Regions from separate parts of the Homo sapiens genome. Here all the other regions are linked to region 1. Evidence: fine-mapped expression QTL. A gene starts in region 1. Each other region holds a variant in brackets. All regions are shown on one strand. Distances are between the middles of the regions. Region 1 holds the start of MSH6 (mutS homolog 6). Region 2 holds the start of LOC124907765 (a long non-coding RNA gene). Region 3 overlaps FBXO11 (F-box protein 11).

Region 1 (10,509 bases):
TCAAAGGTTTCTGCTTTTCTTATAAAAATTAGCCTGCACTTGGCTGGGCATGGTGAATCACTCCTGTAATCCCAGCACTTGGCAGGCCGAGGCAGGTGGATCACTTGAGGCCAGGAGTTTGAGACCAGCCTGACCAACATGGCAAAATTCCATCTCTACTAAAAATACCAAAAATGAGATGGGTGTGGTGGTGGGCGCCTATAATCCCAGCTGCTCGGGAGGCTGAGGCAGGAGAATCGCTTGATCCTGGGAGGCAGAGGTTGCAGTGAGCCGAGATCACACCACTGCACTCCAGCCTGGGTGATGGAGTGAGACTCTCTCTCAAATAAACAAACAAACAAAAATTAGTCTGCACCTGTACCTCTGGCTATTGGGGGTGGAGGTGGGGTGCCGAAGTGGGAGGATGGCTTGAGCCTAGGAAGTCGAGACTGCAATGAGCAATGATTGTGCCACTGCACTCTAGCCTGGATGATGGCAAGACCCTGTCTCAAAAAAAAAAAAAAGTTTCTTCTGCTTTTAGTCAGATTTAGGAAGCTCTGAGAAGGCTTCTTTCTGCATCTGTTGAATCTCAAATGTCTTCAGCCTAAAATAATCTTTATACACCAAATCAGGGATTCTGAGTGGTTCCCCACAGGGCTTATCCAGTTCCATCATACTTTGGCTCATTGTGAAATGGCAAAGGGGGCAAAAGCAGCCTGAGGGGAAGGGAAAGATTTATATTTATAGTGCATACATTAGACGCCTGGCAGCAGTTTTCACTTCATCTCATTCCATCCTCCCAATACCTCCATAAGCAAATATTAGTGAATCCCCATTTATCAGATTAGGAGACCAAGGCTCAAGTGCAAAAAATTTACCCAGGGTGCCCAACCTGTACCTGAGGTTGCCAGGATTGAGAACAGGTCTGCGTGGCCTCAGAGCAGGGCTGATCCCAGAACAGTGAATGCAGAGGGCAGGAATGGCCAGTCAGTTGGGAAGCAAGACTGGGGCCAGACTTTGGAGATCAGAGGCTGAGACCATATTAGAAAAGTACCTGGCAATTCCACCTAGGATGGCTTTGGAGAGCTAGAGAAATACTGGTGCTAGCCCTCCCCATCTCTCTATCCCCCAGGGCCATTTGTGGTCTGAGATAATGAAAGTTTCCAGCCAGTTAGTCGAGGTGGCTCATGTCTGTATTCCCAGCATTTTGGGAGGCTGAGGTGGGAGGACTGCTTGAGCTCAGGAGTTTGAGACCAGCTTGGGCAACATAGGGAGACCCCATCTCTACAAAAAAAATTTTAAAAATTAGCCAGGCATGGTAGTAGCATGCCTGTAGTCCCAGCTATTCTAGAGGCTGAGGCAGGAGGACTGCTTGAGACCAGGAGGTTGAGACTGCAATGAGCCATGTTCGCACCACTGGTGACAGAGCCAGACCCTGGCTCAAAAAATAAAATAATAATGGATGTTAGTCACAGGATGGAGAAGATAGCTGGAGTGGGGGAAGGGAGTGCCTCCAGGCTATGGAAGCCCTCAGGCCCATCTTTCCTCTCTCCAAGTGGACTCTGGGTCTGTCTTCCCCAGCCATCCTCCCAGAGCCTCCACCACACCTTTGGTACTTAGGGGAGTACACAAGAGGCTTTGATTTCTGTACCCTTGCTGACCAAAGGCAGAGTGCAAGTGCTATTTCTTTCCACCTGACTTGCACAAAGTTTCTCCCCTCCTTTTTCCTGAGAATTGAGAAAGTTAAAATAAGCAAGGAATGAGAAATCTGAAACATTCCAGGCCATTCATCTGGCTGGGATAACAAAGATAAAGTCAGCTACAAAGTTAAACAGGAAACACAATCTGTCCCAAGGATAAACTGCCATCCCAAAGTAGCATAAGGAAAACTTTTTTTTACTCTTGACAATCTCAGAAATCTTGTTCTCTAAAGTCATAGGCTTTCAGAAACTTTGCTGGCTGAAATTATTGTTATTATTTATTTATTTAGAGACAGGGTCTCAGTCTGTCACCCAAGCTGGAATGCAATGGTGCGATCACGGTTCACTGCAGCCTCGGCCTCACGGGTTCAAGTGATTCTTCCACAACATCGCCAGTAGTTGAGACTATAGGCATGCATCACCATGCCCAGCTGGTTTATTTTTAATTTTTGTGTTTTTTTTTTTTGTAGAGAAAGGGTCTCACTCTGCTGCCTAGGCTGGTCTTGTACTCCTGGGCTCAAGGAATCCTCCCACCTCGGCCTCCCAAACTGTTGAGATTACAGGCGTAAGCCACCTCCCCTTGCCTTGCTGTTTGAAATTATATCAGCAAAAATGAAACATCCCACTCTTGCCTGGAGCGTCTTACTTTGACACAGAAACAGCTTTGATTTACAACCCAGGTGTGTAACTTTAGATACGGGATTTGTGGACGCTATTCCACATCTATCTTAACTTTGCTGTTTCCAAGGAAATGCGACCTTGGGTGGACTTTGTAGTTTAGCTTTGTCTTTACACACAGCTAGATTTGAGCTTTCAAAACACTGTTTCAGGTAAATTTATCCTAAACTCCACCCTCTCCCTCCCTTTTGTAGTTTGGTGAGACACCCCCATGGTTCGTCTGCTGTGGAGGCTCCCCCGTTGCAACCAGCAAAACAAACCCTGACTTTGGCAGACTACAGGCTTGTCCCTGGTGATCGTGAGCTGCTTGGGCTAGGACGGAACCCTCACAAAACATGCCCCTCCTTTCTTCATCCTTGACTTTATCTCCCAAGGCCCAGGACAAAGACGTAGATTGCTGGGTCACGCTGTTCCTTGGACGGGCAAAGGGGGGAACACAGGGCACTGTATTCTTCTGGAGAATACTTGTTTTCTTCTTCTGTTTTGTGTGTGTGTGTGTGTTGTTTTTGTTTTTTTTTTCTGAGACAGGGTCTCAAGGTAGGAGTGCAGTGGCCTGATCATAGCTCACTGCAACCTCAAGCTCCTGGGATCAAGCAATCTTCCTGCCTTGAGCCTCCCGAGTAGAGAGTAGTTAGGACTATAGGCACGTGCCACCACTCCTGGCTAAATTTTTTAAATGTTTTTGTAGAGAAGGAGGCGGTTCTCACTATGTTGCTAGCTGGTCTTGAACTCCTGGCCTCAAGTCATCCTTCTGTCTTGGCCTCCCAAAGTGTTGGGATTGTAAGTGTGAGCCACTGTCCCTGGCCAGTTGGTGATTTATTTGTATAACTGTCCAATTTATTGAATACGTATGGCGTGCCAAGCACTGGGCTGAGGGCTTCATAATGCCCTTTCACTCAATGCTTAGCACAACCCATGAAGAAGGTAGTGTTAATATCATCCCTGTTTTACAGATGTAGAAACTGAGGCACAGGCTAAATAACTTGCCCAACAAGCTCGTGCAGTTTAGTAAGCAGCTCAGCTGGGATGTGAACACAAACTTTGAATACAGAGCTCTTAACCAGTAGGCCAGAGGTTCCCAAACACCTAGTATATTTACTACCTTAGTACTTTCCTGCCACATCTCCTAGGCCAAAACAACTCCATTGATTGTTATGCAATTTACTAAGTGTAGCCATTTGAAAAAAAAATACATATAAAAGAAAAATATTTTTATTCAGTTTTCAAAATAACCCATATATAGTCATGGAATGTATGTGTTGGTTGGGCACTGCAGACTAAAGACAGTTTAGGGCCGGGCACGGTGGCTCAGGCCTGTAATCCTAGCACTTTGGGAGGCCAAGTAGAGAGAAGGGCTTGAGCCCAAGAGTTGGAGACCGGCCTGGGCAACATAGCAAGACCCAGTCTCTACAGAAAATAAAATTATCAGGGTGTGAGGACGCACACCTGCAGTCTTAGCTGCTTGGGAGGCTGAGGCTGGAGGATCAGCCTGGGCAACAGAGTGAGACCCTGTCTCAGAAAAAAAAAAAAAAAAAGACAGACTTTTATTCAGATATGCATGCAGGAGTTCACAGAAAAAAAAAGTGAGTCCAGGAGGCTGTTATTTGGCATTTATACAACTTTTTTTTTCTTGAATCTCGAAATCTACTTTATATATACCATTTAATAGGGGAAGAGGAGGGAGAAAAAGCCTTCCATGGGAAGAACAAATAGGTTTCTGGGGGAACAAAAGGGAGATAAGAATGTTTGTTTTTGCAGGTGCAAGTGGTCTTTGTCTTTTTTTCTGGCCACTAAAACTCCCCTAGAGAGGAGATTTACGGCAGCTTCACTCCCAGAAATTTCTGCTGTTAGTCGCATAAGGGAAGCTTTGAAACGGCATCTTTCTGCATCTGTTGGCTCTCAAATGTCTTCAGTTCCAAGTAACATTCATGCCAATTCTGGGGGTCTGAGTGTCCCCACATAATACATGTGTTCTCTTGTCTTTTAATGAAGTTTGTGGGAGGCATCTAACTGTAGCCTCCAAAATTTGGCCCATAGGTACTACTGTCCTTATCAAAGACGAGGAAACAAGTTCAGAAAAGTATTAATTGCTCCGAGTTATCTGCTTGGCTAGCTAGGATCAGAGCTCAGTTCTCCATTTAACCCAAAGCCCAGGCTCTTAACCTCTTACAACTGGCGCATCCCCTCTGAACCTCCATTTCCTCCCTGTAAAAGAATAACATCGGCCGGGCGCAGTGGCTCACATCTATAATCCCAGCACTTTGGGAGGCAGAGATGGGCGGATCACGAGGTCAGGAGTTTGAGACCAGCCTGGCCAACATGGTGAAACCCCATCTCTACTAAAAATACAAAACTTAGCTGGGTGTGTTGGTGCCTGTAACCCCAGCTACTCAGGAGACTGAGGCAGGAGAATTGCCTTAACCTGGGAGGCGGAGGTTGTGGTGAGCCAAGATCGTGCCATTGCACTCCAGCCTCGGTGACAGAGCAAGACTCCATCCCCAAAAAAACAAACAACAACAACAAAAAGAGAATAACGTTATATTCAGTTGAACCAAAATGAATTAAATATTAATATTTGTACTTCAAAAACGGTCCAGCTTGGCTGGGCGCAGTGGCTCCCGCCTGTAATCCCAACATTTTGGGAGGCCGAGGCAGGAGGATCATTTGAGGTCAGGAGTTTGAGACCAGCCTGGCCAACATGGTGAAATCCTGTCTCTACTAAAAATACAAAAATTAGCTGGGCAGTAGTAGCGCGTGCCGGTAATCCCAGCTATTCAGGAGGCTGAGGAAGGAGAATTGCTTGAGCTTGGGAGGTGAAAGTTGTGGTGAGCTGAGACTGCACTACTGCACACCAGTCTGGGAGACAGAGTAAGACCCTGTCTCAAAACAAAACAACCAAAAAACCAAAAAGGTCCAGCTTGGGCAACATAGTGAAACTTCGTCTCTACAGAAAATTTTTAAAATACTAGCAGGGCACCGGGCACAGTGGCTCATACCTGTAATCCCAGCACTTTGGGAGGCTGAGGCAGGCGGGTCACTTGTGGTCAGGAGTTTGGGATCAGGCAGGCCAACATGGTGAAACCGTGTCTCTACTAAAAAACAAAAATTAGCTGGGCATGGTGGTAGGCACCAGTAATCCTAGCACTCAGGAGGCTGAGGCATGAGAATTGCCTGAACCCGCAAAGCAGGGGTTGCAGTGAACCAAGATGGCGTCACTGTACTCCAGCCTGGGTGACAGAATAAGACTCCTCAATTAAAAAAAAAAAAAATTAGCTGGGCATGGTGTTGCGGGCCTGTGGTCCCAGGTACTCAGGAGGCTGAGGTGAGAGGATTACTTAAGCCTGGGAGGTTGAGGCTACAGTAAGCCAAGATCACGCCACTATACTCCAGCCTCTGTGACAGAGCCAGACCCTGTCTCAAAAAAATTTTAAAAAGGGCAAATTTTGGCAATTTCACATAGTTCAACCTAGTATAAGGTGGTTGTAATAACTAAATGAGATAAAATGGTGTTAAATTGGAAGTATTATAGTATTTCTGTTAACAACATAGGGCTCCAGAACCAGCTTCCTTGAGTTTAAATCCAGGCTCCACCACTTCCTAGCTATGCAGTCATGGGCAAGTTACTTGACCCAACTGTGCCTCAGCTTCATCCATGATATGGAGATACAGGATAACCAGCCTCTTACGTGCAATTCTGAAATCCAAAAAGCTCTGTAAACCAAAAGTTTGGGGGTAAACTCATTTGGTAGCAAATTTTGACCTGAGGCTATTTATAGTCTATATTCTGTATTCTTTCTACTTAGTATGAATAAGCATGTAAGTTTTACTGCATGTTTGATTTCAGCATGTTCCCCCAGACTCTCTGGGGGTGTTTACGTATGCCGGTGGGGGAAAGAGACCAACTCTCAAATATTATCTCAAACAGTTGGTTTCACTGTGCTTGCTTGGGTAGCACATATACCAAAATTGGAATGACCCCTGCACAGGGATGAAATGCAAATTCGTGAAGCATACTGTATTTTTCTTAGCACATACCACCTTTGGCAATATTCTTTTTTTTTTTTTGAGAGGGAGTCTTGCTCTGTCGCCCAGGCTGGAGTGCAGAGGCGCGATCTCGGCTCACTGCAAGCTCCGCCTCCCGGGTTCACACCATTCTCCTACCTCAGCCTCCCCAGTAGCTGGGACTACAGGCGTGTGCTACCACGCCAGGCTAATTTTTTGTATTTTTAGTAGAGGCGGGGTTTCACTGTGTTAGCCAGGATGGTCTCGATCTCCTGACCTCGTGATCCGCCCACCTCCGCCCCCCCCCCGAAGTGCCGAGTGCTGGGACTACAGGCGTGAGCCACTGCGCCCGGCCCCCGCCTTTTTTTTTTAGATTGATTTTATTACTTGCCTAGCAAAGGAGAACCTTCTGGCAGAACAGTCTCCAAGAACAAGGCAAACAACTAATTTTACATAGGTTTTTACCAATGTACAGCTGTTGATTGTGACTGGTTTCCGGCAATCTGGATTTCACAATCTGGATAAGGGGACAAACAATTGTCTGTCTTCCACTATCTTTCTTGAATTTGAATAGAACCTTTTTATTCTCATAGCCTCTTAGCTTTCTTTCTTTTTTTTTTGAGACGGAGTTTCGCTCTTGTCGCCCAGGCTGGAGTGCAGTGGCGCGACCTTGGCTCACTGCAAACGCTGCCTCCCAGGTTCAAGTTATTCTCCTGCCTCAGCCTCCCAAGTAGCTGGGATTACAGGCGCATGCCACCACGCCCGGCTAATTTTTGGATTTTTAGTAGAGACGGGGGTTTCACCATGTTGACTAGGCTGGTCTTCAACGCCTGACCTCAGGTGATCCGCCCGCCTCGGCATCCCAAAGTGCTGGGATTACAGGCGTGAGCCACTGCGCCCGGCCTCTCATAGTCTCTTAGCTTTCTAAAATTTGAAAAATCCTGTAAAGACACACCTGGGTCAAAGGGCTCAGATAACGGACTGTGGCCCTTAAGTACTTACGTCACAGGTTATTGAGAGGATCGATTTAGTTACCAGATGTAAAATGCTGGGATCAGTGCCTGGCAAAGGAAAACTTTGTACAGCTGCAGGCTTTCACCATACACAACAGCATCGCTAACGAATGCTATTACAATATTCATTTAGCGTTTACCAAGTGCCTACTCTATACAAATCTTGAGAATACAACGTGAAGGTGAACTGCTGACTAAAGTTTGGTCCCTTTCGCTCCGTCTCCTTGCGAAAATGCTCTAACGGCAGGAGGTCACGCGAGCGCTGGACGCGTTTCTCCCCGCGAGCCCCTTTCCGAGGCCTTTCGGGTCCCCCCGGTTATCCCCGCCCGGGCGGTGCGCGCCCCCGCTGTTCCCGCTTCCGCTCCAGAGAGGCAGGGCTTTCCGAGCCTGCTAGCCCCGCGGCCGCAACTAACCCCGGGTCGGAGTGTTCCGGCCCGGCCAGCCCCGCGGCGTGAGGGAAGGGGAGCTCAGCAGTTCCCCGCGCGGGGCCCAGGCGTCGGCGGCAGGGCGGGCCCCTCACCGCCAGCGTGCCAGCCCCGCCCCTACCCACCAGTGTGCCAGCCCCGCCCTTCCCCACGTCGCCGCGCGCCCGGGGGCGGGGCCTGGCGCGCACCGCCCGCGCACGGCGAGGCGCCTGTTGATTGGCCACTGGGGCCCGGGTTCCTCCGGCGGAGCGCGCCTCCCCCCAGATTTCCCGCCAGCAGGAGCCGCGCGGTAGATGCGGTGCTTTTAGGAGCTCCGTCCGACAGAACGGTTGGGCCTTGCCGGCTGTCGGTATGTCGCGACAGAGCACCCTGTACAGCTTCTTCCCCAAGTCTCCGGCGCTGAGTGATGCCAACAAGGCCTCGGCCAGGGCCTCACGCGAAGGCGGCCGTGCCGCCGCTGCCCCCGGGGCCTCTCCTTCCCCAGGCGGGGATGCGGCCTGGAGCGAGGCTGGGCCTGGGCCCAGGCCCTTGGCGCGCTCCGCGTCACCGCCCAAGGCGAAGAACCTCAACGGAGGGCTGCGGAGATCGGTAGCGCCTGCTGCCCCCACCAGGTAGCGGGGTGGGGGTGGGGTCGAAGGCGGGGGCATAGCGGCGGGGCGCTTGGAACCCGGCGAGGGGAGGCTCGCACAGGGGGTTGGGGGGGTGCACGGCCTGGCCCTGGGCTCGGAGGAGGCGGGGCCGCAGAGTTGGCTTGAATGAGTGCAGGGGTCGAGTCTGGAGCATTTGGGGGTGTAGCTTGTAAACAGGGTCGGAGGAGAGAGGCTGTGCAGGAAGAGGGCTGCAGGGGAGACGCGGAGAGTTCGGGCCTTTTGGAGGGAGGAGACGCGTCCCGCCAGGTGGGGGTGCTGGGCTAAGGAAGGGGCGACGCGCGCAGCTCCGGGTGGGGAGGGGGCCTGGGAGGTGGGAGCACTGGGGGTGGGGCGAGAAGGGGAAGGCGCCCGGCCCACTTGGTGGGCGGGGCGGGGGGCGGGGTGGCGGGAAGGAGGAATGCCTGCGGGAGGCCGAACGGGGAGAGTCCGGTGGTGTGGGGTGCGAAAGGAGGTTCCTCGGCCGGCGCGGAGATAGTGAGTTGGGGCTCCAGTAGTCGATCGAGGTAGACACTTAGAGGTAGTTAAGAGCCGCGGTCGCCGAGACGCCTTGGGGACGGTGGGCCTTCGGCCTAGGTGAGGGGCCGCCGAGGGGGTGGGCCACGAGCTGCGAGCGCGGGGGGGTGTGTCACCATGGGGACCGCGGGGCCTAATTGGGCGGGGCGGGGCCGTGGGGAGCCGAAGTGCTGGGATCCGGCTGGGTCCTTCGGTAGGTAGGCTGCACGTGCACCGAGACGAAGATAGAATATTTTGACGTATGTGGAAATTCGTGTCGAGTGGAAAATATTTTATTTTATGAAATAGTGTAATTTTTATGGGGCACCACTGGGCTTTTAGAGGCCTTAATCGGGCGCTGGACAAAGATGTGTGGACGTGAGTGACTCCGGGGAAGCCTGTCGGGAGTTGTCCTCACTTTATGGGCAGTTAAGTGCTTTTTTTTTTTTTTCCTTTTTGAGAGAGAGTTTCGCTCAAGTCCAGGCTGGAGTGCAATGGCGCGATCTCAGCTCACCGCAATCTCCGCGTCCCGGCTTCAAGCGATTCCCCAGCTTCAGCCTCCCGAGTAGTCGGGATTACAGGAATGCGCCCCCACACCCCGCCAATTTTGTATTTTTAGTAGAGACGGGGTTTCTCCATGTTGGTCAGGCTAGTCTCGGAATTCCCGACCTCAGGTGATCCACCCGCCTCGGCCTCAAAGTGCTGGGATTACAGGCGCTAGCCACCGCGCCCGGTCTGTTTAGGGCTTTTTATCCGGGCAGCTGGCGACATTTTGAAAAGCTTGCTTTTGCTGTTTGCCAGATACATATATATGTATTTTGAGACAGAGTCTTGCTCTTTTGTCCAGGCTAGAGTGCAGTGGCGCGTTCTTGGCTCACCACAACCTCTGTCTCTGGATCAAGAGATTATCCTGCCTCAGCCTCCCAAGTAGCTGGGACTACAGGTGCGCCCCACCACGCCTGGCTAATTTTTGTATTTTTAGTAGAGACGGGTTTCACTATGTTGGCCAGGCTGGTATCGAACTCCTGACCTCTTGATCGGCCCGCATTGGCCTACCAAAGTGCTGGGATTACAGGCATGAACCACCGAGCCCGGCCGTTTGTCAGATACTAAACACAAAGTTTAATGGTCGCTATTTGAACAAACGAAGAAATAAAGGCTCAGAAAAAATAACTCATTCAAGATAAGAGCCAGTTCGTGTTTTTTGTTTGGTTTTGTTTTGAAATGGAGTCTCGCTCTGTCGCCCAGGCTGGAGTGCTGTGGCGCTTTCTCGGCTCACTGCAACCTCTGCCCGCCGGGTTCAAGTGATTCTCCTGCCTCAGCTTCCCGAGTAGCTGGGATTACGGGTGTGCCCACCGCGGTCCGGCTGATTTTTCACCATGGAGTTTCACCATGTTGGCCAGGCTGGTCTTGAAACTGCTGACCTCAAGTGGTCCACCCACTTCAGCCTCCCAAAGTGCTGGGATTACAGGTGTGAGCCACCGTGCCCGGCCGCTAGTTAGTGGTTTTGAGTAATGGATTTCAAATCCATTTAAATCCAGTTTAAAGTGTCCTAAAGGAATTCTGAGAT
Region 2 (10,509 bases), 270 kb after region 1:
TTCACGCCATTCTCCTGCCTCAGCCTCCCGAGTAGGTGGGCTACAGGCGCCAGCCACCACGCCCAGCTAATTTTTTTTTTGTATTTTTAGTAGAGATAGGGTTTCACCGTGTTAGCCAGGATGGTCTCGATCTCCTGACCTCGTGATCCGCCCGCCTTGGCCTCCCAAAGTGCTGGGATTACAGGGGTGAGCCACCGCGCCCGGCCGGGAGTTAGGACTTTCACATTTCTTTCTGGGAGACACAATTCAACCTATAAGGTTGAGGACCGTGTCTCGGACTTTCTTCACATCAAGGAAACTTAGAGCACTGCTAGGCAGTTTTCTGCTTTGGGTAGAACTGAAGGAAAATTAAGGACTATGATTTCTTTTAAATAAACAGATTTCGGCTGGGCACAGTGGCTCACACCTATAATCCTAGCACTTTGGAAGGTCGAGCCGGGAGGATCTCTTGAGCCCTGGAGTATGAGGTTACAGTAAACTATGATCAACTCCACTGCACTCCAGTCTGGACAACAGAGTGAGACCCTGTGTCTAAAAAATTAAAATAAATTAAAATAAAATGAAACAAATTTTATATAAGGATATAATATGTTTAATTGTAACAGAATAGTACTTTGATATTAACTGATATAAGTTCCCTATGATTCTTTTTATTTATCTTACAGCCCTTCCCTCATTCTTGAGATATAGATTGTCTTAGGAAAGGTTGTTGCAGAAAAATCGGAGAACAAAAGAGTGAAATTTTACCTTTTGAGTTTTAAAAGCTTAGGTCCAGAAAGAAGGCAAAAACATTAAGAATAATACTTGATTAATCAAAGATAGTTCTTTCTCCCTCCTTTCTATCTGAGATTAGATAAAGTGTCCAGAACTGGGGGAGGAATAAGAGGAGCATCTGAGAGAAAGCAGGACCAGTTTTTTGTTCCTCAGCAGGGGTCATATGGCTTGCCCCCAGGTCAATTCCTGAGGAGTATGAAGGAAGCAAGATCTTCCCCAGATGGGAATAGGGATTTAGGAGAAGAGGAAGATTATATCTTGCTTTCAGGGAAGTTTTAATACTTGTAGAATTTTCCTGTCCAGGTAGGATAGAAGCAGAGTTGAGTGTTTCCTCTATCTCTGAGAGGGGCACAGAAGTACTCAAGGTAGAGCCAGCCTGGAGAGACCTAGTGGTCAGGAGCAAGAGGCTGAGAAGGGCTCTGGGACCAAGGCCCAGCTAAATGATGGACATCTCAACACATGCAGTTACAGAGAGATGACGGTGCCTCCCTTCCTATGCCATAAACTCATGTAATCCCAAAGATAGGTCCCTGGATTGACTCACTAGGTTTCTACTACTATATGGAATGAGGCTCATAAAGTAAATTATGTTTGGTTATTAAAAAATAAAGTTAATTTCTTTCAATCCTTAATTTGTGACCTGAGATTTATTTCAACTCCATAAAGAAAATGATCATTCTACACTTGCAAGCTGCCTCATATTTCTAGGTGGCCAGTGGGAACTGAAACTGTTCTCTGGGCAGCCAAGTGTAACATCAGCATTTTCCCAGACTACAGAAGTTATTTCTGTACCATGTTACCCATGTTACCCATTATTCTGAAGCAATCGATGTGTTAAAATGGTAGAATAGTCTTTGAAAGGCTCAGTTATCACACTAGCTGGGTGGCAACACCTTGTGGGACTGGGTCAAGGTCCTTCAGGTTGTGGTTAATGTTCTAAATCAATATCCATTCTATAGTGCTATTTCTACCATGGCAAGCTTTACAAGTCTAGGAAGCAAAAGGTGGAAATGGAAGTTGTTGTTCTCATGATCATCCCTAGTGATCCACTAGCACAATTTTTTTTTCATCCCCAAAATTTTAGGCTCTACTGCTCTAGAAGTCTTAGTTCCAAAGGAAGAAATGCTTCCACCAGGGACACAATGATTCCATTGAACACTCAGTTGAGAAGACTGCCACTTGGCCACTTTGAGCTCCTAATGCCACTGAATGAATGGCATATCAAGAAAGGGGTTACTATACTGGCTGTGTTGACTGATCTTGACTATCAAGGGAAAATTAAATTGTTACCATGGAATGAATGGCTATGTCTAGAATGCAGGAGACCCTCTAGGGAAACTTTTAGTATACTCATATTTTGTGATTATTAAGTCAGTGTAAAACTACAACAACCTCCAATTCAAGCAGAACTGTTAATGGTCAGACCTTTTAGGAATAAATTTGGAAACAGATAAGGAACTGTGACTAGTTACAGGGCTTGATAAGGAAATATGAATGCTTAGTAGAAGAAGGCAGTTATAAATACCAGCTATGACCACATGAACATTGCAGAAAAGAGGACTACGATTGTTGTGAATACTTACTTCGATGTGCATATTATGTATATATTAACCAAATATTTTTGTTTTCTTCCTTCCTTCTCATCTCCTTATCTAATATAATATATGCTAAGTTAACTTTTTTCTCAATACTTAAGTTACAAGATATCAAAAAGTGACATGTGAATCAATTAGGAGAAGAATAAAAGATCACCCAAATCAAAAAGAGGACTTTTTATTCTCTTTACATAAAAGAATTAACGCAGGGCTCAACAAACTATGGCTCATGAGCTGGTCATCTATTTTTATAAAAAAGTTTTTCTTGGAACACAGTCATATTCATTCACTTATGCATTTTCTATGGCTGCTTTCATGATACAATGCTAGCATTGAATAGTTGCAACAGAAACTATGTGACCTATAAAACCTAAAATATTTGCTATCTGGCTCTTTAAGAAAAAGTCTCTGACCCCTGAGTGACCATATTTTTGGTTGCATGGCGATAATTGTATTATGTTAGGCAGAAGCATGACTTTATTATTTCCTTTATTTGGAGGTTAACTATGGAGATATGTATGCCTGCAAACTTGGCAAAGAACAGACTGAAGTGGCTTTGTAACGTGTTGCCTTGACTAGGCTGAACTACATTTCCCAGAATTCCCTTTCTTGAATGTTTCCAGTTAGGCTGTATTACAAGAGAGATTCCCCTGGGGGATTTGGAGACTGTAAATGAAGCAACAGCCATTTTGAAACACACATACCTTGTCTGTTTCCTTGTTGGTGTGGGCAGTGGCCAGGACTGGAACTGCTCCATCTTCCCCTGGATCCTCCTTCAGCTTCTCTGACTCTTGGGCCAGGAGTGTGTGTGTGTGTATCTGTGTGTGTGTGTGTGTGTGTGTGTGTGTGTGTGTGTGCGCCTAATTTCATGACAAAGGGCCCTGGCTTCTGCATGACCAAGGTCAGAGGCAACAAGTACAAACACAGGTTTTTGCCTGTCTTATTGGCTCAAGCTTGTGCTTATGGGTTCCAGCTTGTTCTTGCTCTCCCTATTTTACATCTTGACTGCCTGCCCTGAGGACTTCCAGCTCCAGCATCAGATGCAATGACAATACCCTTACAGAGACTAGTATTCAACCAGCAACCACAACTGCATAAGGTAAAATCTCTATAACACATTTATATATTTCTTAAGGGGTCAATATCTTTGATTAAACCCTGACTGATACATGCAATAAACATTTATAAAAAGGCATTTAAATGTTCTAATTAGATCAATTTTTTTTGCTATCCTTTTGTTGTTAATTTCTAAGTTTTTTGCATTTTTTCAATAAATATACTTGTATGAATGCTGCTTTTTGTTTATGAACATTTTCTTTATGGCCTAATACATGGTTAGTTGTAACTCTTTCCACATGTTTCTGAACAATGTGTAATCTCTGTTGAGTGCAAATTTCTATATAACTTGTTACCATGTTATTAACTCTTGCTATGCTTAATTTTGTGTTTTCGATATCTTTTATAGAGAAGTGTGTTAACTTTTAACATGATAGTCATTCTGTCGATTTCTCCTTGTAAAATGCTAGAATCTTTTCTCTTCATATTTTTTTGAAACTATATTGTTAGGTGCATGGAAGTTCATGACTAATATAGTTTCTTGGTGGATTGTACATTTTATCAATATGAAATACCATTTTTACCCCTTTTAATGTTTTTATACTGCATTAATATTTGCCATTTCTATTATATAATAATTGAGATAATATATAATGTGCTTGGTCTCTCATGTCTGACAATAGGAAGCAGGCAATAAATAGAGGCTGCTATTATTATTGTCATCCTTGTAATAAATATTATTCTATGTCCCACAGTGTGCAGATTGGTTTCTTTGGGAGACAAAGAGGGAAATAAAGGACTAAAGGAATTCAGATTAAGAAAGAGAGCAACTGCCTCTCAGGCACTGCATAATGATGCTTAGAGTTTCTTCTCCTCTAAACAAGGTGATGGAAACTCCAGGGAAGAGAGGCCCCAGGCTTGGACAGATCACCAGAAAGCCTGCCAAAAGAGTCTTCCTAGGCAGCCAAGAGAATACAGCAGAAACAGATTTTCTTGTTGGATCTTGGCCTTTTTGCTTTTGAGGCCCAGCTGAAACTAGGAAGGGTAAAAGCAAAACAAGGTCAGACCTAATAGTAAATGTGCTCCTGTGGTTGGAAGGTTAGAATTATCTCTTCAGAGATTCCCTTGAATTTACATATATTTATTCTAATTCTGATAATAACCCTCTGACGTAGGACTGATGCACTTCATTTCCAGATGAGGAAACTGGTGTTCACAGAGGCGAGAGATGTGGTCAAAGTCTCAGAGCCAGTAAATGCAGAGCCAGGGTTTGAGTGCAGCTATAGCTCCAGAATCCATTCTTTCCACTCTGTCATGCTGCTCCTCAGAGCAGCTCTCAGTGAGTCATCTTGGTGAGGGGCAATGAATTTGGGGTCAGGCGCAACCTTCAGCAAGAGCTGAGATAAAAGTGCAAAATAGAGAGTAAGCCACAAAAGAAATAGAAGTGTTTGGAAATGTTGGAGAAAGGCTCAGGCCCATGTTGAAGCTACTCCCTGAACTCTGTGCCATTTTCCAAATGGACAGAACTGTGATGAGAGACACAGCGATAATTCCTCTGAATGATGTTTCTCAGGTCTGAAGAGATGGAATGCACTGGGGATTCTCTCAGCCTTGCCATTTGAGAATGGAGAGTCAGGGAGAAAGCGAAGGGCTGGAATTAGAAATTCAAATGCAATCTGATGAAACCACTTTTGACTCCACAGTTAGTAACTCCAAGCTGGCTCATTCCTTTAAATCTTGAGCCCGTCTCAAATGTAGTATACGTTAAGCACCAGAAATTACTGATCTC[T/C]CTTTCCATATGGCCAGTGCATCTCCCCACCTCTGGAATGGAAGAAGCAATAAATGCTGAATAAGACATTTCTTCAGGAAAGACCAAGAGCAAACACATTCTAAAGATGAGGAACTTTGTGAAAAATGTAGACCCAGTGCAGGAAAGAAACAGGTTGCTTGGAAGTATCTGCTAGGGATTTTTTTTTTTTTTAAACTAGGTAAGTTTGCCCCAGGCACATTCATTCAAATAATAAAATGAGAATGGTGTTTGCAAGAATTTAAAAAGGTCCTTAAACTCCTTTCTAGTCAGAATAGATTATTACAAAATGTTCAAGATAGCTCTTCAGAATTTCATTTGATGACCTTGACATGAATTTAAAGCAAATCTCTGCCTTAAAAGTTGTATTGGTAGAGTAATTAAAAGTATGTGATGTTCTTTGCAGAGAGGTGTTCATTTGATGAGAAACTAGAGAAAAGCTTTTTCCTAACAATGTTATTGCAGCTCTTTGCAAGAACTTTAGTAAATTCTGGCTTCTGTCCTAGGTTAAGTTAATTAGCAGTAAGTAATTAGTAGTATAGGTAAAGATAATTAGTGTATATAAGATAATGATTGAAGTTAAATCAACCAGGGATGGGGATGGAAAGGTGCGGGGGGGATGGCACAGGCCAAGTTCTGGAATTAATTGCCAGAGGCAAAGTGAGTGAGGCTCCTGAATAGGCTCTGGGCCATATGGTAATCAGAAGGATCTGCTCTAAAGAGATCTTTGATGTTGGTTTATTCTTCATGGGATTCCTGGGATTGAAAGACAAGGGCAGCCTTCTAAAGCCCTACTTGATTTGCAATTTTTTTATAAAATAGGTCTGGTGAATAATACCTAATTTTCATTACTCCCAAATTAAGTTACAGCATTTCACCCAATTTCTACCTGGATGAATTCAGTCCATGAAAAGGGTCAAACTCTGTAAAATATTTGAAGAGAGTTATTCTGAGCCAAGTATGAGTAACTATGGCTGGTGACACAGCCCTCAGGAGATCCTGAGAACACGTGCTCAAGTTGGTAGGGGTGCAGCTTGGCTTTATACATTTTAGGGAGACATGAGATATCAATCAAATACATTTAAGATATACATTGGTTCAGTCCAGAAAGGCAGCACAACTCCAAACTTCCAGGTTATAGGTAGATTTAAAACTTTTCTGATTGGCAATTGGTTGAGTTATTATCCATAGAGAGGAATTGTCTAGGTTATGATAAGAGGTTGTGGAGATCAAACTTTTATCATGCAGATGAAGCCTCCAGATAGCAGGTTTCAGAGAGAATAAATTGTAAATATTTCTTATCAGACTTAAGGTCTGCCTTGATGTTAATGCTGGAGGGTATAAAAAGGCACGTCAGACCCTCACTTCCCGTCAAGGCCTGAACCAGTCTTTCAGGTTAAATTTTAGAGCACACCAGCAGATGAGGAAGTCCATTCAGATGGCTGGGGGTGGCTTAGAATGTTGTTTTTGGTTTTCAATTCACAATGCAGAACTCTTTCATTGAAGAAGTGGTTACACGAAAGGGGCCCCGATCCGGACCCCAAGAGAGGGTTCTTGGATCTCATGCAAGAAAGAATTCAGGGTGAGTCCATAGAGTAAAGGGAAAGCAAGTTTATTAAGAAAGTAAAGGAATAAAAGAATGGCTACTCTAGACAGAGCCACCCCAAGGGCATCTGGTTGCCCATTTTTATGGTTATTTCTTGATGATATGCTAAACAAGGGGTGGATTATTTATGCCTCCCCTTCTTAGACCATATAGGGCAACTTCCTGATGTTGCCATGGTGTTTGTAAACTGTCATGGCACCGGTGGGAGTGTAGCAGTGAGGACGACCAGAGGACACTCTCATCACCATCTTGGTTTTGGTGGGTTTTAGCTGGCTTCTTTACTGCAGCCTATTTTATCAGCAAGGTCTTTATGATCTGATCTTGTGTTGACCTTCAGTCTCATCCTGTGATTTAGAATGCCTTAACCATCTGGGAATGCAGCCCAGTAGGTTTCAGCCTTAGTTTAGCCAGCTCCTATTTAAGATGGAGTTGTTCTGGTTTACACGCCTCTGACATTTCCCCCATCCCTTTTATAGGAGAACCCTTAATCCTAAGGGTTGCAGAGGGATGAAGATCCATCTTCTGCAACTTCTTCAGGCTGAATAGGGGCAATTATGTTCCTGCCTAACTATTAGAGTCTTTTGTGTTTAGGGTAGAGAGGAGCTCAGTCAGAAAGTGTTGGTATGGCGAGGGCCATTCAAAACTCCGAATTCTGACAAAAGGTGATATCTGGAAGATTAATAAGTGTTCAACTTAAGAAAACATTCAGTAAACTTATCCTGCATCCCTACACAAAGAGTACAACAGCAATATATTTCACAACAGTAAAGCAAAATAAGTAAAATTATTCCAGGCAAACTAAATTAGAAGGCTTTCCATGAACTAGGCAACTGTTGGAACCAAGCTGATATGGGGTTGCTAGAAGATTCCACTGTGTGCCCAGGATTAGAATATTGATCCAGGTTTTTACATCACCCATCTGAGCAGCAGCCAGAGATCACTGGTTGGTTCACAGGAATAAACAATGTTAGCCTAAATTGCAGAAACAATCTTAAAAACAATTGATGATACTAGAATCTAATAACAACTGTACCATAGTTTTTGAAACATAATTTTTCTCTCCAGTTTCCCATATTTACTAAAGACAAATTATGGTAAGACTGATTTGCTTTATTATGCTTTGTCTGATTATTTGTATAAAGTGCAGCAGGAATAATTATTTTTTCACATAGGCTTTTTGTAAATTGGCTTTGATGGAACTGTTTCATAGAAGGAATCTCAGATAAGACTTTTTTAAAGCCAAGGCCAGCCATGGGTTTGTGCCCTCAAATATCTAAGAGTTGAGTAAATTCCTCTCCTCTTGGGGTCCCAAGATAACCTGGGGCTCCTGGACCTGTTCAAAAGTGACATTCTTTACTTACAACAGGTCAGAAACCTTGTACAGGGACTGTTGTAGGCGAGGTATGAGGCTAGTTCCCCAAGGGGCTTTTATTGGCTCTATAAGTCAAATTTGAGTTCTTAAAGGAAAGCATGCCATTCCGGACAGTCTTGGTAAAATAACCAATTTTTCCAACTGTGTCCTGTTGCAAAAGAAAACAGATTCTTATTGCACTTATGCAAATAACTATATTGCCATAAATTTAGAATAGTTAGAAATAGTTTCCAAATTCTGGAGAAATCAGGTAGGAGAAACAAATAGGCTCCAAATTTTGTCCACAGGGGTATACTTTACTCAATTGTTGAAAGCTATAAATAGCTTAAAAGAAAAGTTTTCTTAACTCTGCAAAACAAAACAAAGGATCAGTAACTTTTTTATTTTTTATTTTACTTTAAGTTATAGGGTACATGTGCACAACGTGCAGGTTTGTTACATATGTACACATGTGCCATGTTGGTGTGCTGCACCCATTAACTTGTCATTTATATTAGGTATATCTCCTAATGCTATCCCTCCCCCTCCCCCAATCCCACGACAGACCCCGGTGTGTGATGTTCCCCATCCTGTGTCCAAGTGTTCTCATTGTTCAATTCCCACCTATGAGTGAGAACATGCGGTGTTTGGTTTTCTGTCCTTGCGATAGTTTGCTGAGAATGATGGTTTCCAGCTTCATCCCTGTCCCTACAAAGGACATGAACTCATCCTTTTTTATGGCTGCATAGTATTCCATGGTGTATATGTGCCACATTTTCTTAATCCAGTCTATCATTGATGGACATTTGGGTTGGTTCCAAGTCTTTGCTATTGTGAATAGTGCCACAATAAATGTACACGTGCATGTGTCTTTATAGCAGTGTGATTTAAAATCCTTTGGGTATATACCCAGTAATGGGATGGCTGGGTCAAATGGTATTTCTAGTTCTAGATCCTTGAGGAATTGCCACACTGTCTTCCACAATGGTTGAACTAGTTTACACTCCCACTAACAGTGTAAAAGTGTTCCTATTTCTCCACATCCTCTCCAGCACCTGTTGTTTCCTGACTTTTTAATGATCGCCATTCTAACTTGTGTGAGATGGTATCTCATTGTGGTTTTGATTTGCATTTCTCCGATGACCAGTGATGATGAGCATTTTTTCATGTGTCTGTTGGCTGCAATAAATGTCTTCTTTTGAGAAGTGTCTGTTCATATCCTTTGCCCACTTTTTGATGGAGTTGTTTGATTTTTTCTTGTAAATTTGTTTAAGTTCTTTGTAGATTCTGGATATTAGCCCTTTGTCAGATGGGTAGATTGCAAAAATTTTCTCCCATTCTGTAGGTTGCCTGTTCACTCTGATGGTAGTTTCTTTTGCTGGGCAGAAGCTCTTTAGTTTAATTAGATCCCATTTGTCAATGTTGGCTCTTGTTGCCATTGCTTTTGGTGTTTTAGTCATGAAGTCCTTGCCCATGCCTATGTCCTGAATGGTATTGCCTAGGTTTTCTTCTAGGGTTTTTATGGTGTTAGGTCTAACATTTAAGTCTTTAATCCATCTTGAATTAATTTTTGTATAAGGTGTTAGGAAGGGATCCAGTTTCAGCTTTCTACATATGGCTAGTCAGTTTTCCCAGCACCATTTATTAAATAGGGAATCCTTTCCCCATTTCTTGTTTTTGTCAGGTTTGTCAAAGATCAGATGGTTGTAGATGAGTGGTATTATTTCTGAGGGCTCTGTTCGGTTCCATTGCTCTATATCTCTGTTTTGGTACCAGTACCATGCTGTTTTGGTTACTGTAGCCTTGTAGTACAGTTTGAAGTCAGGTAGCATGATGCCTCCAGCTTTGTTCTTTTGGCTTAGGATTGTCTTGGCAATGTGGGCTCTTTTTTGGTTCCATATGAACTTTAAAGTAGTTTTTTCCAATTGTATGAAGAAAGTCATTGGTAGCTTGATGGGGATGGCATTGAATCTATAAATTACCTTGGGCAGTATGGCCACTTTCTTGATATTGATTCTTCCTATCCATGAGCATGGAATGTTCTTCCATTTGTTTGTGTCCTCTTTTATTTCGTTGAGCAGTGGTTTGTAGTTCTCTTTGAAGAGGTCCTTCACATCCCTTGTAAGTTGGATTCCTAGGTATTTTATTCTCTTTGAAACAATTGTGAATGGGAGTTCACTCATGATATGGCTCTCTGTTTGTCTGTTATTGGTGTATAGGAATGCTTATGATTTTTGCACATTGATTTTGTATCCTGAGACTTTGCTGAAGTTGCTTATCAGCTTAAGGAGATTTTGGGCTGAGATGACGGGGTTTTCTA
Region 3 (10,509 bases), 98 kb after region 1:
TTTTAGACAGGTTTTCCCAGAAAGTACTCTTCTAGCCTCTTCTTGAAAGGTGTAAATCTAGACGCTAGCACTCAAGGAGGCAGAGGTTTAAAGCACTGGGATGCTCAACTTTTCATATGCAGACTTGCCATTTAATCAACATTTTAGGTTTGAAGGCCCTTCCCTTATCTGTATCTGGTATTTCTCTCCCACAATAAGCCTCAGCTTTCCGCCTTGATGGTAAAGAGGCAAATACCTGGTTGCACAGGACACAGAAAGGAAGCTAAGAAGTCTAACTGCTCTTTTTAAAGTCTTACAACCAGTGCTCCTGGGTTTTATCCTTGCCCTACACGTGGCCCTCAAAGGCACCTGTGTCTCTAATTCCTTAGTCTTTTGAGGTTCTTTGGCATGATTTGGATTATTTCCTGTAGCTTCCATACCTTCCCAGTGCTCCTGGGTTTTATCCTTGCCCTACATATGGCCCTCAAAGGCACTTGTGTCTCTTATTCCTTAGTCTTTTGGGGTTCTTTGGCATGATTTGGCTTATTTCTTGTAGCTTCCATACCTGCCGGCTGTTTCAACTTTATTGGGTACACTAAGTTGCTACCCATTCACTCACTTTTCAGTTTCCAAACTGATTTATTTTGTCCCTCTTACCCTTTTCTCTGTTCTTGTGGGTTTATGCCTTTTAAAAATTATGTTACTGTAACATGATTTCAATTAAAAACAAAGATATGTATGTGTTCAACTTACCACATTTTCATCCCTTTACATTTAATCTGTGTTCCTCTGCTTTGAGTATAACTATTGTAAGGGCAGCTGGCTTTTTTTTAAAATATGTAACTTTAAAGCTGGGCCCGGTGGCTCGTCCCTGTAATCCCAGCCCTTTGGGAGGCCGAGGTGGGTGGATCACGGGGTCAAGCGTTTGAGACCAGCCTGGCCAACATAGTGAAACCCCGTCTCTACTAAAAAGACAAAAAATTAGCCGACTATGGTGGCGGGCACCTGTAATTCCAGCTACTTGGGAGGCTGAGGCAGGAGAATCGCTTGAACCTGGGAGGCGGAGCTTGCTGTGAGCAGAGATTGCACCACTGCACTCCAGTCCGGACGATAGTGCGAGACTGTCTCAAAAATAAATAATAAATAAATAAAATATATAACTTTAAAATATACATTAATCCACTGTAATTATATTTCTATTTTGTTGTGTTACATTTATCCTGATTTTCCTTTACTTCCTATTCCCCCTTTTCCTCTCATGCTTTAACCCTCAACATACCATTTACTACCTGGGTCCAAAGGATGCCTTAAAAATTTTTTTAGGTTATTTTACAAATAATTTACAGAGACAGTGCAAGACAACTTTTAAAATAAATTTTAAAAGGAACTTAAATACAGCAAATACCTCTTTGTACTAAGTAAGTTTAACACACAAACACCGTACAAAATTTAAAAAAAAAAACAATTTTGAGACAGAGTCTTGCTCTGTTGCCCAGGATGCATTGCAGTGGTGCAATCTCAGCTCACTGCAACCTCCAACTCCTGGGTTGAAACAATTCTTGTGCCTCAGCCTCCTGAGTAGCTGGGACTACAGGCATGTACCACCATGCTCAGCTAATTTTTCTATTTTTAGTAGAGATGGGATTTCACCATGTTGGCCAGCCTGGTCTCTAACTCCTGGCCTCAAGCGATCCACCCGCCTCAGCCTCCCAAAGTGCTAGGATTATAGGCATGTGCCACCATGCCTGGCCACATACAAAATTTAAAAAACATTGTCTCAGGACTTTTTTTTTTTTTTTTTTTTAAAGCAAAAAGGGATGGTTCAGGTTCATGTTGTGAAATATTCCTGTTGAATGACTAACTGGATAAAAATACCATATTTTCTTTGTCAAAACGTCTTCTGCATTCAATTCTTAAGTCTGAGAAAATTCATACAGGATATGATCATCTCAAGAATCAAAGTCTGACTTCATTTATATGCTCAATTTCACTATCATTATTGGCGTATGGAACAGCAATATCTAATATAACTTTCCACAACGATGACAATGTTCCGTATCTGTGCAGTCCAACATGGCAGCCAGCCACCGTGAAGTAAGAGTAATTGTAAGTTGTATTCTTCTCCTACATAACCCCTTAAAAGTGTGATGAGGAATGGAATTTTAAATTTTATTAATTTTAATTATTTTAAATATACATAGTCACATGTGGCAAGTGGCTACCATATTGGACAACTTAGGTCTAGAGTGCTATTTATCTTCGCGTTTATCTTCTAATTCGTATGTCTCCTAAATTTTTTTATACGTTTTTGAAGTAGGATGTAGTATTTGAGCAATGCAGTGAGAAAACTGAAAAATGACTATTTATTACATCTTCCATCTTCCTTCTAGGAGATTCTGTCATTCTTTTTTTGTCTTTTTTTTTTTTAGCACAGTATAAATAATTGATAAGTAATGATAAAATTCCTAGAGTAGTAAAATATTTCAATATATAGGAAAAGCCAAGATTATTAAGATCTCATAATGGATGTTAGGTTTATAAAAAAGGGTCTAATGGACTCATATGGTAACTGTAAGATAGAATAATTTTTTAAAATAAATTTTCTCTTTGTTCTTTGGTAGATCTCTAAGAATACAAGTCATAATATCTACCCTTCTAAATAGTTGGCACTGCTCTAAAATGAAAATCAAAAATGAAAATTATTCCAACTGACCCTGATGGTATACCAAGGGTTTAGCCTTCTTCATTCTCTTATTTTCATTCCTTTAGTTCTGCTGGTCTGGAAGACATCTATTTTATTTCTATTCCTTTTGTGGTTACTCAGGTTAAAAAAGAAAAGCAGCAGCAGCAGCAAACATGTATAGAGTAGTACTAATCAGTGGCTTTATATGTATTTCACTTAATCCTCCCCACAACAACTATGAGAAGGTATTATTGTCATCCCCAATTATACATAAGGAAATTTACGCGTAAGAAGGTAAAATAACTCCTTAATGTCACACAGTTAGTAAGAAATAAGCTAGTCTTTCATTCAGGTAGTCTGGCTGCAGAGCCACAAAATAGCTATTTAGTTTTGGTAAAATACCCTGAAGTTGGTCAGTGTCTCTTTTTGTGCTACTTTTTGGGAACAAAGCAAGAATAGTAGCATTCCTGACTCAACTCTATTTTCCAACTTTCTTGTTATTGTCTAGAGTTTTGATTCTACTTTAAAAATTATGTATTTGCAATCAACTCAACTTGATTTATCAAATATTTTGCCAATTCTTTGTTTGCCACTGTATTATTTTTTGCAATTCCTCCTTCTCCCTGGTTTACTATTCTTGCTGAAGTACAATCTTTGGTTCTCCCATCAAGCTTCTGTAAGTGAGGAGCTCTCTATTTTGTGTATTTCCTCACTTTGGGCCTCATTCTTGCTGACAGATAATAGTTTAAATGAGTATAGAATCAAGGTCAACAGTTATATTCCTTATACATTCGGAGGAAAGAAGATCCTTTTATCTTCTGGAAGACACTGTTCTGGTAAATACGTTGTTAATTTAACTAATATTTTAGTGTAGGGACTGTGGCATTTTTCATTTTGAAAAGCTTTTATGTTTTATGATCTGCAATTTCACTTTTGAGCATCTAGAAGATTTAAAAAATTTATCCTGGTAAGCAACTGTTCAGCAGTGCGCTATTTCAATATGAAAACTCAGTTCAATATGAAACCTTAAATTCTGGAAACCTTTTAATCATTATCTCACTGAATACTGTTTCTCTACTACTATGTCTAATCTCTCCTAAAATTTCTTTTGAATATTGAACTTAGGTTTGAATCTCTCGATCTATATTCATTTTTTTTTTTCCACTTCTCTCTTACTACATTCTGGGTGAATTCCTTAATACTATTTTCCAAATCACTGTTTCATTGACCATGTTCAGTCTAGTACACATCTAATGACATCTTACTTAATACAGGGTTTTTTTTTTTTGAGAGGGTCTTGCTCTGTTGCCCTGGCTGTAGTGCAATCATGGCTCACTGCAGCCTCAACCTCCTGGGCTTAAGCGATCCTCCCACCTCAGCCTCCTCAGTAGCATGGGACCACAGGTGTGCAGCACCACACCCAGCTAATTTTTCTATTTTTTGTAGAGATGAGGTTTTGCTATGTTGCCCACACTGGTAATTTTGGTTCTTTTATGGCAATTATTCCTTCCTTTACCTCCCTGAGGATCTTAAACATACACTTTAAAATTGTTCTATTATTTACACCTATAGACTAAGGATTCACTTGAATATCAATTATTCCCACTCCTGCAAAAAAGAAAACATACTATAAATACTGTTTCATGATTCCCATTTTTTCCCACTAAGCAACAAAACTTAGGAGATATTTCTGTATCAGTACACAGAAAACATTCTCTTTTCCCTCTGATGAAGGTGTTGACTTGGTTATTTTAGGTTTAGTTTTTCTTCTGTATTTTCGAATTTTTGTTTGGCAGGTTCATTGTAACTCTAAGTTGCATGGTGTGTGTGTATCTTTGTGTGCTTACCTTACCCTAACGATTTTTCATTTTCTCCATCTCTCACTCAAACCTCCCACCCCAGAATAAGGTTTTTCGTTTCGTTTTGTTTTGTTTTTGAGATGGAGTCTCGCTTTGTCGCCCAGGCTGGAATGCAGTGGTGCGATCTTGGCTCACTGCAACCTCCGACTCCCAGGTTCAAGCGATTCTCCTGCTTCAGCCTCCCAACTAGCTGGGATTACAGGCGCGTGCCAACACGCCCAGCTAATTTTTGTATTTTTAGTAGAGATGGGGTTTTACCATGTTGATCAGGCTGGTCTCAAACTCCTGACCTCATCATCCGCCTGCCTCGGCCTCCCAAAGTGCTGGGATTACAGGCGTGAGCCACCGTGCCTGGCCCAGAATGAGGTCTTATAATTGCTGCATATGTCTCCTCCTGAAGATCCAGTCCCTAAGTCATGGGCAGGTAGGCCCAGCTTTTACCCAGGAGGCTGTCACTGCTTCCTTCCAGCACTCTGGACCTGCAATTTATATAAGCCATATCCCTAAGCAACAATCATACATTCTTTTTCAGTTTTTTCCTGATTCAGCCCTTTAGTTTCTGGGGTAATAAAAACAGGCTGTTCATCTCCCTGCTCCAATCTGTCTACCAATATACAGTAGAGTTTTGGTCTCTATTCTGCAGACGACCTCTCAGAGGCATCTTCCTGCCTGCAAAACAGATTTTGATAGATTCATGTATTTAGTCTCTATTTAACACCTTGCCTTTTGTTCTTTTTTTTTTCTTTTTTTAAGACAGAGTCTCACTCTGTCACCCAGGCTGGAGTGCAGTAGCACGATCTCAGCTGACTGCAACCTCCACCTCTGGGTTCAAGCAATTCTCCTGCCTCAGCCTCCCGAGTAGCTGGGATTACAGGTGCCTGCCACTATGCCGGGCTAATTTTTGTATTTTCAGTAGAGATGGGGTTTCACCATGTTGGCCAGGTTGGTCTTGAACTCCTGACCTCGAACTCCTCAATCTGCCCACCTCGGCCTCCCAAAGTGCTGGGATTACAGGTGTGAGCCACTGCGTCCAGCATTTTTTTTTTTTTTTTAAAGGAATGAAAGGTCTCAGCCAGGTGCGGTGGCTCATGCCTGTAATCCCAGCATTTTGGGAGACAGAGACAGGCAGATCACCTGAGGTCAGGAGTTCGAGACCAGCCTGGCCAACAACATGGTGAAACCCCATTCCTACTAAAAATACAGAAATTAGCCTGGCGTGGTGGGATGCCTGTAATCCCGGCTACTCGAGAGGCTGAGGCAGGAGAATCACTTGAATTGGGGAGGCAGACATTGTAGTGAGCTGAGATCACGCCACTGCACTCCAAGCGAAACTCTGTCTCAAAACAAAACAAAACAAAAAAGCCTCCCTCCCAATCTTTCCACGTATTCAGTTCCTCTCCCCTTTCTCCAGGTAACGCATGTTAAGATTTCCTTGTCCATCCTTTCCAAGTTTGTGAGTGTAAAAAAAATATGAATATAAATTATGCAGCCCCAGAATTTTGCCTTTTTCTTACAGCTGCATGGTATTCCATTATATGGTTTTTCCATAATTTCTTTGACTAATCCCCTACTGATGGACATCTGGATTGTTTCTCACCTTCTGCTATTACAGAATAATCTGATAC[A/G]TGTATCATGTGGTGTAAAGTATAAGATAAATTTCAGAAAACTCAACCTGCTGGGTAAATACATTTTTACTCTGGCAGATATTGACCAATTGCCTTCCACAGGGATTATCTCAATTTGTATTCTCAATAGCAGTGTATGAGCAGCTTTTCCCCCAAAGCTTCACAACCAATGGAGTATGCTGCCCAACTTTTGTTTTTGCCTAATAAGGGAACTATAATCATTGTAGTTTTAACTTCTCTTACTGTGAATGAGGTACTGGCCTCATTAGCTTAAAAGCCACTTATATTTAATTTTCTGTGAATTATCGATTCATATCTTTGCTCGGTTTTTATGGGGTTGCAAGATCTTTTTGTTATCAAGTTTCCAAGTACTTACTGCATGTATATCAGGAAGGCTACCCTCTGTCTATGATTAAAATTACCAATAAGTTTTGCTAATTCCTAACTGTAAATAAGTTTTGGCTGCAAATAAGTTTTACCAGTTTTGCTGAAACTCTATATCCACTGAACAATTCCCTTTTTCCCCTTCCCCTAGCTACCACCACTCTACTTTGTTTCTAAGGGTTTGACTACTTTAGATATCTCATATAAGTGGGGTCATGCAGTATTTGTCTTTTTGTGACTGGCTTTCACTTAGTGTAATTCCTCAAGGTTCATCTACGGTTGTATCACACAACAAAATTTCCTTTCTAAAGTTTGAATAATATTTCATTGTATGTATATACATTTTCTTTATCCATTCAGAGAAGGTTTTTTTTTTTTGGAAACGGGGTCTCACTCTGTCACCCAGGTTGGAGTGTAGTGGTGCAATCTCGGTTTACTGCAGCCTCCACCTTCCAGGCTCGAGAGATTCTCCCACCACAGCCTCCCGAGTTGCTGGGACCACAGGCACATGCCATCATGTCCAGCTAATTTTTTTGTATTTTTGGTAGAGTCAGGGTTTTGTCATGCTGCCAGGCTGGTCTCAAACTCCTTGGCTCAGGCAATCCACCCAACTTGGCCTCCCAGAGTGCCCTGAGAGTGTTTTAATGTAATAGAATTTATCATTTATTTCATGACTTCTGGATTGAATCAGTATAAAAGGTCTTCCCCATACTAAAATTATAAGAAGACTTCTACTTTTAGTATTTTCATGGCTTTATTTTATTCATTGATCTGTTTGGTATTTATGTGAAAAACATCCAATTTCATTTTTTCAGTTTTCCTGGCTCCTTTCTTGTTTACTTTTCCTTATGAACTGTGGAATCAGAATGTCCAGTGTTTTAATTTATAAAATTAAAAAACATTGTGTTGTTTCATTTGTTGAAGCTTGTTTGGCGTCTTTCACATAAACATTTCCTGCTATGAATGTATTTCCATTTCTCCTTGTATTTTTGGTTATTTCTGCTTCACCAAGTTTGCTATGTTATCTGACATATTGCTATTCACAACTATTAAATTTTCATTGTATCCTTTAAGAAATAAGTGCCACTCTTTATTGTTTTTTAGTATGAACTCCACCTGGTATGTTAAAATCATGACACTCCTAAATTATTTTCATTTGCATTTGTATCTTATACCTTTTCTCTATCTTTTAAAATACCAGTCTTTCACAATCACTGCCTTAGGTGTGTACCTTGTATAAACCAGAGAGTGGGTTTTGCCTTGAATCTAAGCTAAAAATATTTTCCTTCTAAAGGTGAGTTAAGCATATTAATATCTTTTTTAAGAAAGGCATGTTTGGGCCGGGCATGGTGACTCACACCTGTAATCCCAGCACTTTGGGAGGCTGAGGTGGGCAGATCACAAAGTCAGGAGTTCAAGTCAAGCCTGGCCAACATGGTGAAACCCGTCTCTACTAAAAATACAAAAATTAGCCGGGCTTAGTGGCGGGTGCCTGCAGTCCCAGTTACTTGGGAGGCTGACGCAGTAGAATCACTTGAACCCGGGAGTCGGAGGTTGCAGTGAGCCAAGATTGCGCCACTGTCCTCCAGCCTGGGTGACACAACGAGACTCTGTCTCAAAAAAAGAAAGAAACAAAGAAAGGTATGTCTGGTCTTAGGGCTGTCTTGTTATGTATGTGGTTATATAAGAATTTTTTTTCACTAAATGATGTTTTATTTTTAACTGGTTTGTAGTTCTTTCAATATCTAGGAAGGTTTATAGCTTTGTTCTAATGGTTACCTTTGTAATTTCTATCTCTTTAGACAATACCTATTAGTTCCTCAACATGAGTAATGTTAAAATTAGCACGCCTCCTCTCCCATTACCCTATTTAATCAATAGTATTGAAACTAATAGCATTATCTTTAGTGTTTTAGTTTTATTTTAATGTTTCTTTTAAAGTGCTGAATATGTTTATATTTCTATTATTTGATCTGTGATGTTTAAACATCTTTTTCAATACCAGTTATTACCATAGGGCAATTCCTTCTCTCAAATTTTATTAGTTTGATCATTTGTATATCATCAGGGTATACAATATTAACATTATATTCTGTCGTTATGATCTCCACATTTTAGTCTTTTTTTTTGAGACAGAGTCTCGCTCTATCACCCAGGCTGGAGTGCAGTGGCATGCATAATCTCTCACTGCAACCATCTACCTCCCAGGTTCAAGTGATTCTCGTGCCTCAGCCTCCCAAGTAGCTGGGACTACAGGTGTGCACCACCATGCCCAGCTAATTTTTATATTTTTGGTAGAGACAGGGTTTCACCATGATGGCCAGGCTGGTCTTGAACTCCTGGCCTCAAGTGATCTGCCTATTTTGGCCTCCCAAAGTGCTGGGATTACAGATGTGAGTCACCACGCCCAGCCCACATTTTAGTCTTTATGTCTATATATAAATTCACTGCTTACACACCAATCATTTCCCCATGTCTATCAGCTGAAGTTTATACTCTACTATTTTCCTCAAGAAGGGCTCACATAAACAATATTCTCTGAGTACTATTTGTTCCTTAAGAACAATGTGACTGGATATAAAATCTTTAGCTCGCACTTTACTTTCTTATCTTATAAATGTTGTTCGACTGGGGTTGAATGTTGTGGAGAATTCTAAGGCCAGCCAGATTTCAATGTCTTATAAACAACTTGGAGTGGGGTAGTTAGGAAGGTTTCTGGCTATTGAAAGGAATCTTTAAGATCTTTCTGGTCAGTTTTCCCTGCCACAGATGCCCTTTCAATACGTAAGTTTCATCTCAGCTAGTTTTTCTTCAATTGTGTTTTTAACCACTTGTTCTACTGTCATGTTTTGGTTTTCTTCTATAGGGGTTTCAATTCTAAGTTTGTTGGATCTACTGTATTTTCTAAAACTTAAAAAAATAAAATCTTTATTTCCATTTTTTAAAATCCCTGTGTCTCTTATTATGTTTTCCTTGGGGCTAGTCTGCTTCTTGTGCTCCTTCTTATTTCATCTGTATTTCTGTACTATTTTTTGAGACAGGGTCTCCCCTCTGTTGCCCAGGCTCAAGTGCAGTGGGGCAATTTTGGCTTATTGCAATCTCTGCCTGCTTGGCTCAAGCCATCTTCCCACCTCAGACTCCCAAGTAGCTGGGACTACAGACGTAAGCCACCACACCCGGCTAATTTTGTACTTTTTTAGAGACAGGTTTTGCCATGTTGTCTAGGCTGGTCTCAAACTCCTGAGCTCAAGCGATCTCCCTGTCTCAGCCTCCCAAAGTGCTGGGATTACAGGCGTGAGTCCCCATGCCCAGCCATTTGCTTTCTTCTACTTCTTTCCCAAGTTCCCTCAACTCACATTTTATGTCCTCCTGTTGCCCTGCCATCTCTTTTCTGAGTTCTTACCATTCCTGCTTTGTAATCTTCTCTTGTAGAACTATTTACAAGCTTTACTCAAGTCTAAAAAATAGATGGTGAAATGCTGGGTCACAATTTTCATCTGTTCTGTAGCAACACTTCACTAATGACTGTTCTTTGTGTTTGGGAAGTTTTGCTGCCATATCAGCTTCTTTTTTATTTTGCGTAACAGAATAAACTGAATTTTCCTGAAGCAGCTATTTACATAGATTCCTGGGAGTGGGAAAGGAAGGAAATAACAGGCTTCACAGTCCAAAGACTCTCTACTCCTTTGACGCTTTAAATAATAAAGGGAGTGTGTGCTCTTCTGCTGCCCTGCGACCAGTGCCCTGTGCATTGCCTTCTCCTGTATCCCCTAATCTAACTCATCTCTTTATTTCACTCAACCTCAGAGCCGCCACCAAAATGCAGATTTTTGTAAAAACCCTTATGGGGAAGACCATCACCCTCCAGATTGAACCCTTGGATACAACAGAAAATGTAAAGGCCAAGATCCAGGATAAGGAAGAAATTCGTCTGGATCGGCAAACACTGATGTTTGATGGCAAGCAACTGGAAGATGAA

What was found. PIP is the estimated chance that this variant, and not a neighbour inherited with it, causes the effect.
Region 2: its variant is the best candidate, but not a certain one, in a credible set for the expression of MSH6 in whole blood (INTERVAL, PIP 0.81).
Region 3: its variant is the best candidate, but not a certain one, in a credible set for the expression of MSH6 in whole blood (INTERVAL, PIP 0.85).

Annotation. Positions count from the first base shown.
Region 1 is chr2:47,775,086-47,785,594 of GRCh38, forward strand. It overlaps MSH6 (mutS homolog 6), which reads left to right and starts at 8,060. Exons shown (of 10, transcript NM_000179.3): 1 at 8,060-8,408. The coding sequence starts at 8,149. RefSeq lists silencers at 6,301-6,482, 7,633-8,112, 8,393-8,552, 8,753-8,842 and an enhancer at 7,433-7,502.
Region 2 is chr2:48,044,297-48,054,805 of GRCh38, forward strand. LOC124907765 (a long non-coding RNA gene) reads left to right here and starts at 3,066. Exons shown (of 2, transcript XR_007086314.1): 1 at 3,066-3,468. RefSeq lists enhancers at 2,703-3,227, 3,228-3,751. The variant T/C (reference allele first, on the strand shown) is at 5,215.
Region 3 is chr2:47,873,105-47,883,613 of GRCh38, forward strand. All of the region lies in intron 1 of FBXO11 (F-box protein 11), which reads right to left. It also overlaps the pseudogene RPS27AP7. Among named protein-coding and RNA genes, the nearest start is that of FBXO11, 28 kb to the right of the region's middle. The variant A/G (reference allele first, on the strand shown) is at 6,147.